Homo sapiens: one gene and its partners. The protein of the gene in region 1 interacts with the protein of each later gene in a biochemical or structural test. Each region holds a gene or a part of one and is shown on either strand. Other genes may lie near its edges. The genes, in order: ITGB2, PRKCE and ICAM1.

Evidence for each region.
Region 2: of the proteins of ITGB2 (region 1) and PRKCE, one has a biochemical effect on the other in vitro, tested with the Homo sapiens proteins (one study listed by BioGRID).
Region 3: the proteins of ITGB2 (region 1) and ICAM1 form a complex in vitro, tested with the Homo sapiens proteins (4 studies listed by BioGRID).

What each region holds. Positions count from the first base shown.
Region 1 is NC_000021.9:44,900,300-44,904,050, reverse strand, and holds part of ITGB2 (integrin beta-2 isoform 1 precursor), read left to right. Parts: intron 1-515; coding exon 516-686; intron 687-2,317; coding exon 2,318-2,559; intron 2,560-3,575; coding exon 3,576-3,731; intron 3,732-3,751.
Region 2 is NC_000002.12:46,144,553-46,148,303, reverse strand, and holds part of PRKCE (protein kinase C epsilon type), read right to left. Parts: intron 3,212-3,751; coding exon 3,073-3,211; intron 1-3,072.
Region 3 is NC_000019.10:10,269,453-10,273,203, reverse strand, and holds the start of ICAM1 (intercellular adhesion molecule 1 precursor), read right to left. Parts: upstream 2,085-3,751; 5' UTR 2,045-2,084; coding exon 1,978-2,044; intron 1-1,977. UniProt on the Homo sapiens protein: ICAM proteins are ligands for the leukocyte adhesion protein LFA-1 (integrin alpha-L/beta-2).

The DNA of each region.
Region 1 (3,751 bases):
ACAGCTACACAACCGCACGTGTGACTGAGACGCGGGCGAGCGGAAGTCCAGGGCTGGGATGGAGAAAGGGGCCTCCTGGGGACGGCCCGCGTGGGCCTTGCTGGGAAGTGCCAGGTTCGTGTGATGCCTGTCTATGTGGCTGCTGATGAGGGCGCCCGTGGGACTGCAGGCATGGGGCCGGGTTAGGTGTGAGCCCAGGTGAGCCGCTGCCACTCTCAATGAAAGGCGTCCCCAATGTCGCTGGCGTCAACTCTAAGCACCCCAGGCGGGTTTCAGTGTCACTGCGAGGCACATGCCTGCGTCCGGGAGTCATGTCCTTCCTCTGAAACTCCAGCCTGCCTGGATGTCCTGTGTCTGGTCCTCAGCTCTCCTGCCAGGCGGGGAGAGGGGAGGTCAGGAGGATTTGGGGGCTGGAGGAGAGGGTGCCAGTGCACAGCCCGCTCGGGGCCACACGCCCCCAGACACCCTGTGTGAGATGTGAGGTGTGGCTCCTTTTGTTCTGTCCCCACCGGCAGGCCAGGCAGCAGCGTTCAACGTGACCTTCCGGCGGGCCAAGGGCTACCCCATCGACCTGTACTATCTGATGGACCTCTCCTACTCCATGCTTGATGACCTCAGGAATGTCAAGAAGCTAGGTGGCGACCTGCTCCGGGCCCTCAACGAGATCACCGAGTCCGGCCGCATTGGTGAGGCCCAGGCACTGCAGGACAAAACCCAGTCCTTTCCCAGACCCTGGCCACTCCTGCCTGTGGCCCACACAACTCCTCGCACTCAGGTCCCCAGGGTAGATCTGGGGGCCCCAGATGCAGGTCCCCCCAGGGCATCCACAGGGCTGCAGTCGGCCTGCCTCCCTGCCAGGGGCCACACCCAGTCCCTGGCTCCCCAACACTTGTAGACATTGTCCAGCCCTCCACTTCCCCTTCCATCTTCTACTTCCTTTATTTATTTCTTGGTATGTTTAAAAGACAAAATTCTGACAGTGCCAATTATTAAACATTAAAGACCACAACACATATAGACGGCACAGCGACGGCAGCACTGAAGAAACCACACAGCAAGCTCTGCTGGGCCAAGGGCTCCGCTCTACACCAGCACTGCCTTGCCACAGAGCAGGTCTCCAGCACACGTGTGTGTCAGTCACAGCGCATGTCTTCCCCGCCGGCCGTGGCTTCTCACATCGGCACTCTGCCACCTTCCCTACATGCGGGGATGCACACATGCACGATAACACACACACACACAAGCAAATGCATGCTCACACAAATGCACGCTCACACACAAATGCACGCTCATGCACGTGAATGCACGCTCACACACAAATGCATGTTCACACATGCAATGCACACTCACACACAAATGCATGCTCAAACGCAAATGCACGCTCACACATGCGAATGCACACTCACACATGAATGTATCCTCACATGCACAAATGGATGCTCACACACGCGAATGCATGCTCACACACAAAAGCACACCCAAACTCAAATGCACACACACGTGAATGCATGCTCACACACGTGAATGTATGCTCACACACATGCTCAAACACACAAATGCATGCTCTCACATGTGAATGTATGCTCACACATGAATGTATGCTCACACGCAAATGCATGCTCACACACGCGAATGTATGCTCACATGCACAAATGCACGCTCACACACGTGAATGCACGCTCACACACAAATGCATGCTCACACACATGAATGCATGCTCACACTTGCATGTGCACACACATGCACACACAGTCATACACACGTGCAAGACCACATGTGCACACAGACATGCTCACATGCACACTCATGATCACCCATGTATGTCTTCACTCACATGTATAAATCGTACATAAACACACATGCCCACATATGTACCTGGTCACCTACGTGAACTAGGTGTGTCCATACCTGAACATGCTCACATGCATACAGGAATACGTGCACACACAGTTGTGCTACGCATGTACACACTCATGTTTACACATGCAGATGGCTGCACACACAGATACACATACGCACCTGTTCACATGCCCACATGTATACCTGGTCACACACATACATGCAGGAACACACATGCATACACTTATGCTCATCCATGTACATTGCACACTCCCAGGTTCACACACACGCCCACATACGTTCACATGTGTGCTTGCACAACGCACATGCTCACACACACACTCCACATGTGCCATCTTGCTTTCTCCACCTCCCTGCTAGGAGAGAGGAAACAGGCTTGCCCTCGTGCCCCTTTGAAGCTGGCCCTCCCACCTGGGCCCAGCCTGCCACCTCCCCAGCCCCTCCATGTGCCCTGCAGGCTTCGGGTCCTTCGTGGACAAGACCGTGCTGCCGTTCGTGAACACGCACCCTGATAAGCTGCGAAACCCATGCCCCAACAAGGAGAAAGAGTGCCAGCCCCCGTTTGCCTTCAGGCACGTGCTGAAGCTGACCAACAACTCCAACCAGTTTCAGACCGAGGTCGGGAAGCAGCTGATTTCCGGAAACCTGGATGCACCCGAGGGTGGGCTGGACGCCATGATGCAGGTCGCCGCCTGCCCGGTGAGGCCGCTGCCCCTGCTTGGGTCCCCACGTTCCCCCAGTGTGGGGGGCTCTGTCAGGCGCTGTGTGGGGGCAGGGGGGTACCCTGGCCGGCAGGTCGTCTGAGGGACTCCAGCCTGGGCCTGGGGAGAGCAGCTCCTCACCCTGCTGCTGCCCATGCAGGAAAGGGCAGGAGGAAGGGAGGGTGACCACGAGGGCTCGAAAATCATGCGCTGATTTCATTGTTTGCTGTGAGTTAAATTTGTGACCCTGGGCAAACCTTATGAAGCCTAAACATTTTGCGAGCGGCCAAGGGTGGAACAGGGCCGCTAGGCAGCAGGTCCCGTGGTTCCTGGGGTGGAACCACCCTCCTCCCTCCAGGCCGGGTGGGCGCTGGCTGCCCAGTGTGTGTCGCTCTCCACGTCCCGCCCACCCAGTTTGTGACTGTCAGCCTAACAGAGCAGCCACAGTCCCTGGGCCATGTTGAGGCCACATGCACTGTCCTCCCCTCACAACCCACCTTAGCTCTCCTGCTTCCCTGCAGTCCCAGCGCAGACACACTGCTCACGAGTGTGAGGTCACAGCCTAGGACACGCACGGCCCCCACATGCGCCTGCCAGGGGCTGTCAATGGTGGACTCAAGGCCTGCTGGGCCCCTCAGGCTCGTTTTCCTCCATGTTGCACTCGTTCTGCGTGTGGCCCACACGTCTGCGAGGGTTTTTCCCCTTGGGGATGGTTTCCTGAGGGTTTGTTCCCAGCTCTGAAGTGCAGGGACCGCAGCCGTGTCTCTCTCCTTGCCTTTCCACACGTGCCTCCACTCCCTGCGCCTCACATGTGCACGGGGTGTTTGAGGGCCGTTGTCTCCTCCTGGGCGTGGCGTCTGGGGGAACACAGCTGGGTCCCTGAGACCCAGGGGAAAGGGGGACCCACACCAGCCTCCGGGCCACCCCACCAGCTCTGCATCGTCTCCTCTGCTCCAGAGGGCCGGGTCTGGGAAACTGAGGCAGGTAACCCTGCCCCCCACGCCTTCTTCTCAGGAGGAAATCGGCTGGCGCAACGTCACGCGGCTGCTGGTGTTTGCCACTGATGACGGCTTCCATTTCGCGGGCGACGGGAAGCTGGGCGCCATCCTGACCCCCAACGACGGCCGCTGTCACCTGGAGGACAACTTGTACAAGAGGAGCAACGAATTCGTAAGTCCCCACCCCAGGCA
Region 2 (3,751 bases), on another chromosome or scaffold:
GGCAGAAGGGCAAGGCTTCCATGTCACGGGAAGTCACCTGGAGCCAACCCCTCAAGTGCGTCAGAGCTCGGGAGAAGGGAGAAGGGAGAAGGCATTGGCCCTGATGATGCTATTACCAAAGGCTGGTGGCCACTTCCTGGGAAGCAGGGGCTGGGAGTGGGAAAGCAGAGGGGGTGCCATGGGGCATATCATGTGGCAGGAAGATAAGCCTTGGGGCAGACCTCATGCCTCCAAAGCTGTCTCTGGTTTTGAGGTTAGCTCAGCACCTTACCACCTCTCCCATTTGAATGGAGGCTTCTGCTTTCTCAAGCATTTCCATGCTCTAATCTCATTAGATTCTCAAAGCAGCTTGATGAGGTAGGTAGGGAAGGAGTTATGGCTCCCATGTGAAAGATGAGAAACCTGAGACTCAAAAACATTTTGTGACTTCATCAAGTCATCAAATGCTCATGTGTACATTTGTGGTCAAATCTGGACTCAAGACTCAATTCTCAGGATTGCGTTTCCTATCCCATCACACAACCCAACAATGATGATAACCATGAAGCCACCATTTAGCCAGCACTCCCTGTGGGCTGGGCACTGGGCTAATGCTTTAGAGGCATAATCTCATTTAATCTTCCCAGTAGCCCTCGATGAAGGCAGCAATACCTTTATCAGCTGTAATTTGCCTACAGCAAGACCAGGGATTGTCATTGCCAGTGCAGAGATGTTTCTGCACGGTGGGCACGAAGGCCAGAGCAGGAAGGAAGAGTGTCTGTGCTTCATTGTGAACAGAGATCAGAGTTGTTCATTGTGAGTCTCACCAATGGACTGCTTTTCATGAAAGCTGAGTGGCTATTTTGTTCATTATAAAGTGAATGTTCTGTCTTGGGTTGGGTCCTTAACTATAACATGGGCTGTCAACTGTTAGGCTCTGGCATCAACTTACAGAGGAACTGGAACTGAGTATTCTGACAATGAAGAATGAATGATGGCATCAACTTAGAGAGGAACTGGAACTAAGTATTCTGACAATGAAGAATGAACGAAGAACACGAGAAAAGCAGTTCCCTGTCGAAAGCTCTTGCTTTCATTTGTTGCTCCTTGAAGGCTGAATTCCTAGTGTTCTTGCTAAGGAAATACATTTGCAGAAAGACTGAAATCCCTACTCTTTAGATCTCTTAGAAGATAAAGGTTCTAAAGGGAAACTACCTATTACTCATCACCTTCACTTCGAGATGTTCCTCAGGCCTCCCCTGTCTTGTGTGGTCTGTGAAGCCTCCTGACCATCAGTCCCTCACTCCCTGCCTTCTGATCTGCACAGCTGTGGCCTTCCTTCTTCCTGGGATGGATCTGACTAGGACTCTCCTCCACTGAAACCCTGAGTGGGTCCACAGATCCTACAGGATCAAAGCCACATTCACTGGGTCTTTATCCCAATCTCATTCATTACTATGAGCACCAGGAAACCCTATGATCTAGCTACACTTTTTAACTGTCCTGGAAAAGACCAAGATGTTTTTGTCCCTTGGCCTTTGCTCATGTTGGAATGTCATAAGTTGTCATTTTTTAACAAACCTTTCTAAGATCCTGATTTGTGTGCCGGATCCTGGCAGTACCCAGATTAGAAACACAGACCCTGCCCTCAAAGGATCCAGGGCCCAGGGACACTGAACCTCCTTTCCTGTCCTGCCCCCGTTCCAATCCTGTTGTTTTCAGGAATACCCTCCCCACCCCTTCCGTCAAAGGAAATCCTCATTCTTTACAACTCAATTCATCCACCAGGTGCTCCAAGAAGCCTTTCCTGATCCCTGAGGATACCATCTTCTTTTATGTGCCTATTTATTCTGCTTAATTAGTTGTTTACTTATCTATCACTCCCTTTAGACCAAAAGCTTCTTTAGAATAGGGACAAGTGTCTCAGTCAGTTCTTTATCTCCACATTGCTTTGTGCCTAGCACGTGCTCAAACAATGCCCACTGAAAGAAATGAGCTCTGAATGTGCTAATACCTATCCGCCATGGGCGATGTTTAGTGGGGATTGGTACTTCTTTCCTATCTTACATGTCTCAGAACCATGAAGATCATTTTGATTGTCTATGACAGGCCATGTCTTAAATCTGAATCACATCACACTAGTTATCTCTCAGTTTGGGCAGGAATAAGGCAAACAAACACTTCATGCTGAGCAAAACATCCCAAACAACTTTCAGGAAAGGCAACCTATTGGAGTGGTTCACAGTGAACATCTCTGATATCTGTATATAATGAGGCACAGTCACTCTCCTCTTCCTGCTCCATCCTGTGTACTCACAGCATAGAACTGCCACTATGCAGGAAATAGCAAACAGTTCCTAGTTTTACTGTTAGCAAATTGTAGCTGATAAAGTGAAGTGCTCCCATGATCAATGATGCTCCTTTATTCTGATTTTATTTTTTACTTTTTTTTTTATTGAGACAGGGTCTTGCTCTGTCACCCAGGCTGGAGTGCAATGGTGCAATTATGGCTCACTATAGCCTCAACCTTCTGGGCTCAATTGATCCTTTCACCTCAGCCTCCCAAGTAGCTGGGACTACAGGTTTGCACCACTATGCCTGGCTAATTTTTGTATTTTTTATATAGACAGGGTTTCACCATGTTGCCCCGGCTGGTCTTGAACTCCTGGGCTCAAGCGATCTACCTGCCTTGGCCTCCCAAAGTGCTGGGATTACAGATGTGAGTCACTGTGCCCACCCTGTTCTGATTTTAAAGACATGAAAACAATAATAAAAGTCAACACGTTTTTCTTGGTCCTAGATTTATTGGTGGTTCTGGACTAGGATGGGAAAGAGATGTTCAGTGTGAACTTGCCCGGGTTTGGGAAATAGCCTGTTACTCTCATTTCACTCATCATCTCCCCAACACTAGGACTTCTTGACAGACATCAATCAGCAAACTTTTTTCCTTTCCTTTTCTCCCTCCTTCCTAGAATCCATCCTGGATTTCCAGAGCCTTCCCCCAGCACCACTAGATGACCCCAGTGCATGGGTTTGGACCCCTGCCTCGGTCCTGGCACCAGGAGGAGGTGAACCTTTGCACACAGGTCTTACCTCAGGAGCTATGTAGTCAGGAGTCCCACAGAACGTGGTGGTCGTCACACCATTCAGAATCCCTTCCTTGCACATCCCGAAGTCAGCCAGCTTGCAGTGACCTTCTGCATCCAGAAGGATGTTGTCCAGTTTCAAATCCCTGCAAGATAGGCCAGGACCATAATGTCAATACGTCACTCACCCCAATATAGTCTTCCTGAGTTGGAGGTATGTGCCTATCTTAGGGAAATCTCCAGCAAAAAAGTCCTGAAAGAAGCTTGTGTTTCTTGAAACCCATCTCAGTCCAGGGGCTCTCTCTCATGTTAGTCAGCCCCTAACGGCACCTCCACTTTCTTCAGCAAGAGGGAGGAACTTCTGTAACCCCAGGAATATATCAAGACTGCTGTGGTTTAATAGAGCTAAGTCAGTAGGTATATATAGAAGCCCTGCTATGCACCCACATTCATATTAATGAGATCCTGCTATGAAAGAAAGAAGCATCTACCCCTGTCCCTCATGAACTAACCATGGGGATCAGCTGGGGTTCCCAGCATGACACATAGGGACATCAACGAAACGGTTAAAACCACCTAAGAGTCAGGCACTACTTTATAGAACACTATGAGAGCTAATGTGCATCAGAGCGGGAGACCACAAACAGCTAGTGCAGGCAGTGAGGGCTTCCAGGAAACAGCGCCCC
Region 3 (3,751 bases), on another chromosome or scaffold:
ACATTTTTGTAGAGATGGGGTCTCACTATGTTGCTAAGGCTGGTCTCAAACTCCTGGCCTCAAGTGATCCTCCCGCCTAAGCCTCCCAAAATGCCAGGATTACAGGTGTGAGCCACTGTGTCCAACCAGATTTTAATGTGAAGTTGGTGCCCTCCTCCCTCCTAAGAAGTCAGGTGGAGACAGTCAGCCCTCCAGGAATCAGACTGGCTCCTCACTCCCTGAGACACGTAGTTTCCCCCTCTTTGGGCCTCAATTTCCCCATCTGTAAGGTGGGTGAGTATAGCCACCCCATCCCTTGCTAATACAAGTAACTCAGCACAGGATGGGTAGCAACTGGCTACCTTGCAGGTAAGAAAGAAGGGGCTTACGGGGTGGGCACTGTGGCTCACGCATGTAATCCCAGCACTTTGGGAGGCAGGGTGGGCAGATCATGAGGTCAGGAAATCGAGACCATCCTGGCTAACACAGTGATTAGCCGGGTGTGATGGCACATGCCTGTAGTCCCAGCTACTCAGGGAGGCTGAGGCAGGAGAATCGTTTGAACCTGGGAGGCAGAGGTTGCAGTGAGCCGAGATCACGCCACTGCACTCCAGCCTGGGCGACAGAGTGAGACTCCGTCTCAAAAAAAAAAAAAAAAAAAAAAGAAAAGAAAAGAAAGAAAGAAGGGGCTTATTTGGATCAGGTCCCTCAGATTCTGCTGCCTCCGAAGGTGGGAAAAAATGTCTGAGCCCAGCACTGCCTCACTCAAAGATTCCTGTCTCAGATTTGTTCTATCTTGGATGGGGGTGTGAGGACACTGGCTCCATACATTCTCCAAGGGAGATTCTGGGACCATTCCCATTTCATAGAGAGAAATGGTTACTCAGCTAGAAAGCAGTGCGATCTGGGTCTGAGTCCGGATCAGAACGCTTTGTTTTTTGAGACAGAATCTCGCTATGTCTCCCAGGCTGGAGTGCAGTGGCACAATCTTGGTTCACTGCAACCTCAGCCTCGTGGGCTTAAGGGATTTTCCTCCCTCAGCCTCCCGAGCAGCTGGGATCACAGGCGCCCACCACCATGCCAGCTAATTTTTGTATTTTTAGTAGAGACGGGATGTTGCCATGTTGGCCAGGCTGGTCTCAAACTCCTGACCTTAAGTGATTCGCCCGCCTGGGGCTCCTAAAGTGTTGGGATTACTGGCATGAACTACCGTGCTGGCCTGGATCTCAGGCTTTGTTGAGCTGTTAACCAAGCTGTCAATCTCCCACCCTCCTGGTTCCCCAAACTTACACCACCATGAAAGACCCTCTGACCCCTTCCCTCTTCCCTAGCTGGGCTGGAGCTGGGGGAGGGTGTGCTGGGGCGTCCCACTTCTCAGCTTTGGGCCACGGATAAGTCAGCTCTGGAATTCCCCCAAGTAGAAGCAGCCCTGGACTTCCCCAGGGGCAGAGAGGATGAGGAACAGAATATACATCTTGAGGGGGGTGGGGGTCCCTTAAGCCTTGTTGGGTTGGCACAGAGCCAAGTTCCCAAACCATCATGATCGAGTCCTGGGGCCAGGTGCTGCGCTGGGCCAAGATACCCTGCCAGGTGGCCGCTATAACGTTTCCCGTTTTACAGCTGAGAAACTGTAAGAGACGCAATCTAGCCAAGCAAGGCGGTGGTTCACACCTCTCATCCCAGCTACTCGGGAGGCTGAGGCAGGAGGTAAGGCTAGACCCCCGGAGTTCAAGACCGGCCTGGGCAACAAAACGAGGCCCGCCCCTCCCCTCCATCTCCAACCCCCTACCCTTTTTTAAAGCTGCAATCTATAGCCCAAGGCCACACGTGGAGGTATGCAGGGTCTGGATTCGAACCTACTGGCTGTTGCCTTTCAATCGCTGTCTCTAGCCCCTCCTTCCCATAAACAGCTACCTAAGCATGCATGACCTGACCCGGGAGCCGGTCCTCCCGGGGCTTCGGAGAACTGGCCCGACGGCAATCCCCACCCCGACTCACCTGGGAACAGAGCCCCGAGCAGGACCAGGAGTGCGGGCAGCGCGGGCCGGGGGCTGCTGGGAGCCATAGCGAGGCTGAGGTTGCAACTCTGAGTAGCAGAGGAGCTCAGCGTCGACTGGGGCGCGTGATCCTTTATAGCGCTAGCCACCTGGGGGCCAAGGGGCGGTGCTGCTTTCCCGGAAACCTCGCGCCTTCCCCTCCGGAACAAATGCTGCAGTTATTTCCGGACTGACAGGGTGCCCGGGCCGAGAGGGTCATCCTCCCTCGCTGGCCGCTTCAGCTCCGGAATTTCCAAGCTAAAGCAATCGGGCGGCGGTGGCAGGGCGATGACCCCGGGGGCTGCTCCCGGCCTCCACGCCTCCCGTTTCCCGGCCAGGCTAAGCTTGAATCACGGTCTACACCGCGCTAAGCGGTTTATTAAGTACTTTTAAATACTGCCAACTTCCCCGGAGAGTGGAGACTGTTATTGTGTCCATTTCACAAAGCGGTAAACTGAGACTCCAGGCTGCGAGGGGGTCCGAACTCAAGTCCTCCCTCTCCAGCTTACGCAGGCCTCTTTAATCGAGTGGATGAGCCCCCTGCCTGGGTGGGGGCCCAGGAATCCTCCCCGGGCTCCCTCCACTGAGGGATGCCCCTCCCCCTAGGTCACGTCCACACCTAGCTGACACGGGCATTTCTCGAGAAGCGGCCAGAGCAGAGCCAGGCACCTCCCGGCGACCGCTAACCGTGGGAGTGACGAAGCGCGGTCTCACCACGTCCGGGGAAATCGGCGTCCTCTCTCTACACCCGAGGGCACTCACCCCGGCGGCCTCCTCGCTTCCCCTTTCGGCCTTGGCCGCGGAGGCGTCTTTACAGCTCCCAGAAAAAGGAAGGAAGCTGCGTGATCCCTACGCGCCGAGCCCCTCCGCTGGCGTCCCAGGCTCCGCGGGGAAACTGAGGCAGCTAGCTTGGATCTTGACGAGGGAGGGGAGGGGGACGCTCGAAATCCCTGCCTGTCGCTGGGAAACTGAGGCAGCAGCCCCCAGGCGCAGAGGCGAGGCAGGGAGAAGGGGCGCTCGAACCCCTGCCCTACGCGCGAGGCTCCGGCAACTCGAACCCAGGCTCATGCACTAAATATGAGCGGGTGTTTGCTTGGCCACCGCCTGTGCGTGTGACCCCAAGACTCGACATCCACCACGTCGAGGCTGGGTACTCTTAAGTCTCCGAGCACCAAGCCGCGCCGCCTAAGGCTTTCCTGTTGTGGGGCGCGCGCGGCGTCGCCATGGAGATCTCCGAGGGGCCAGGGAGGTCGCGCAGCAGAAGGGGAAGCGAAGGGTCCCCGGACGCGCAGGCCCTTCCTATCGGGGAAGGGGGCTGCGAGTCACTGGCCATCCAGAGACGCATATTTCCCCCGCCTCGGTCATTCCCAAGGAATTTCCACGGGGATATTTTTTTCTTGGGGGGCTGAGGAGTTCTGAATTCCCGCCCCGGAACGGCCTGAGCAAAGTCACAGGGTGGGACGGGGGACGCCCCTGGTCCTCAGAAGGCCTGGGAAAATCCTGCGCCACGGGTTCTTCCTCGGGCGGGTTCCACTGAGCTCTTGCCCCGGCCCGAGGTGCGCGAGCTCCCCCGCGCGGCCCAAGTCCCACTTGCAGCCACAATGGTGCCGTTCTTTTCTCAACATGTGGCTCAATGTTTTTTAAGCGCCTACTGTGTGCTTGGCGTCCTTCCAGGTACTGGGGACACAGGAATGAACAGAGTCAGACAAAAATCCACCTGGGCGCGGCTCCCACCT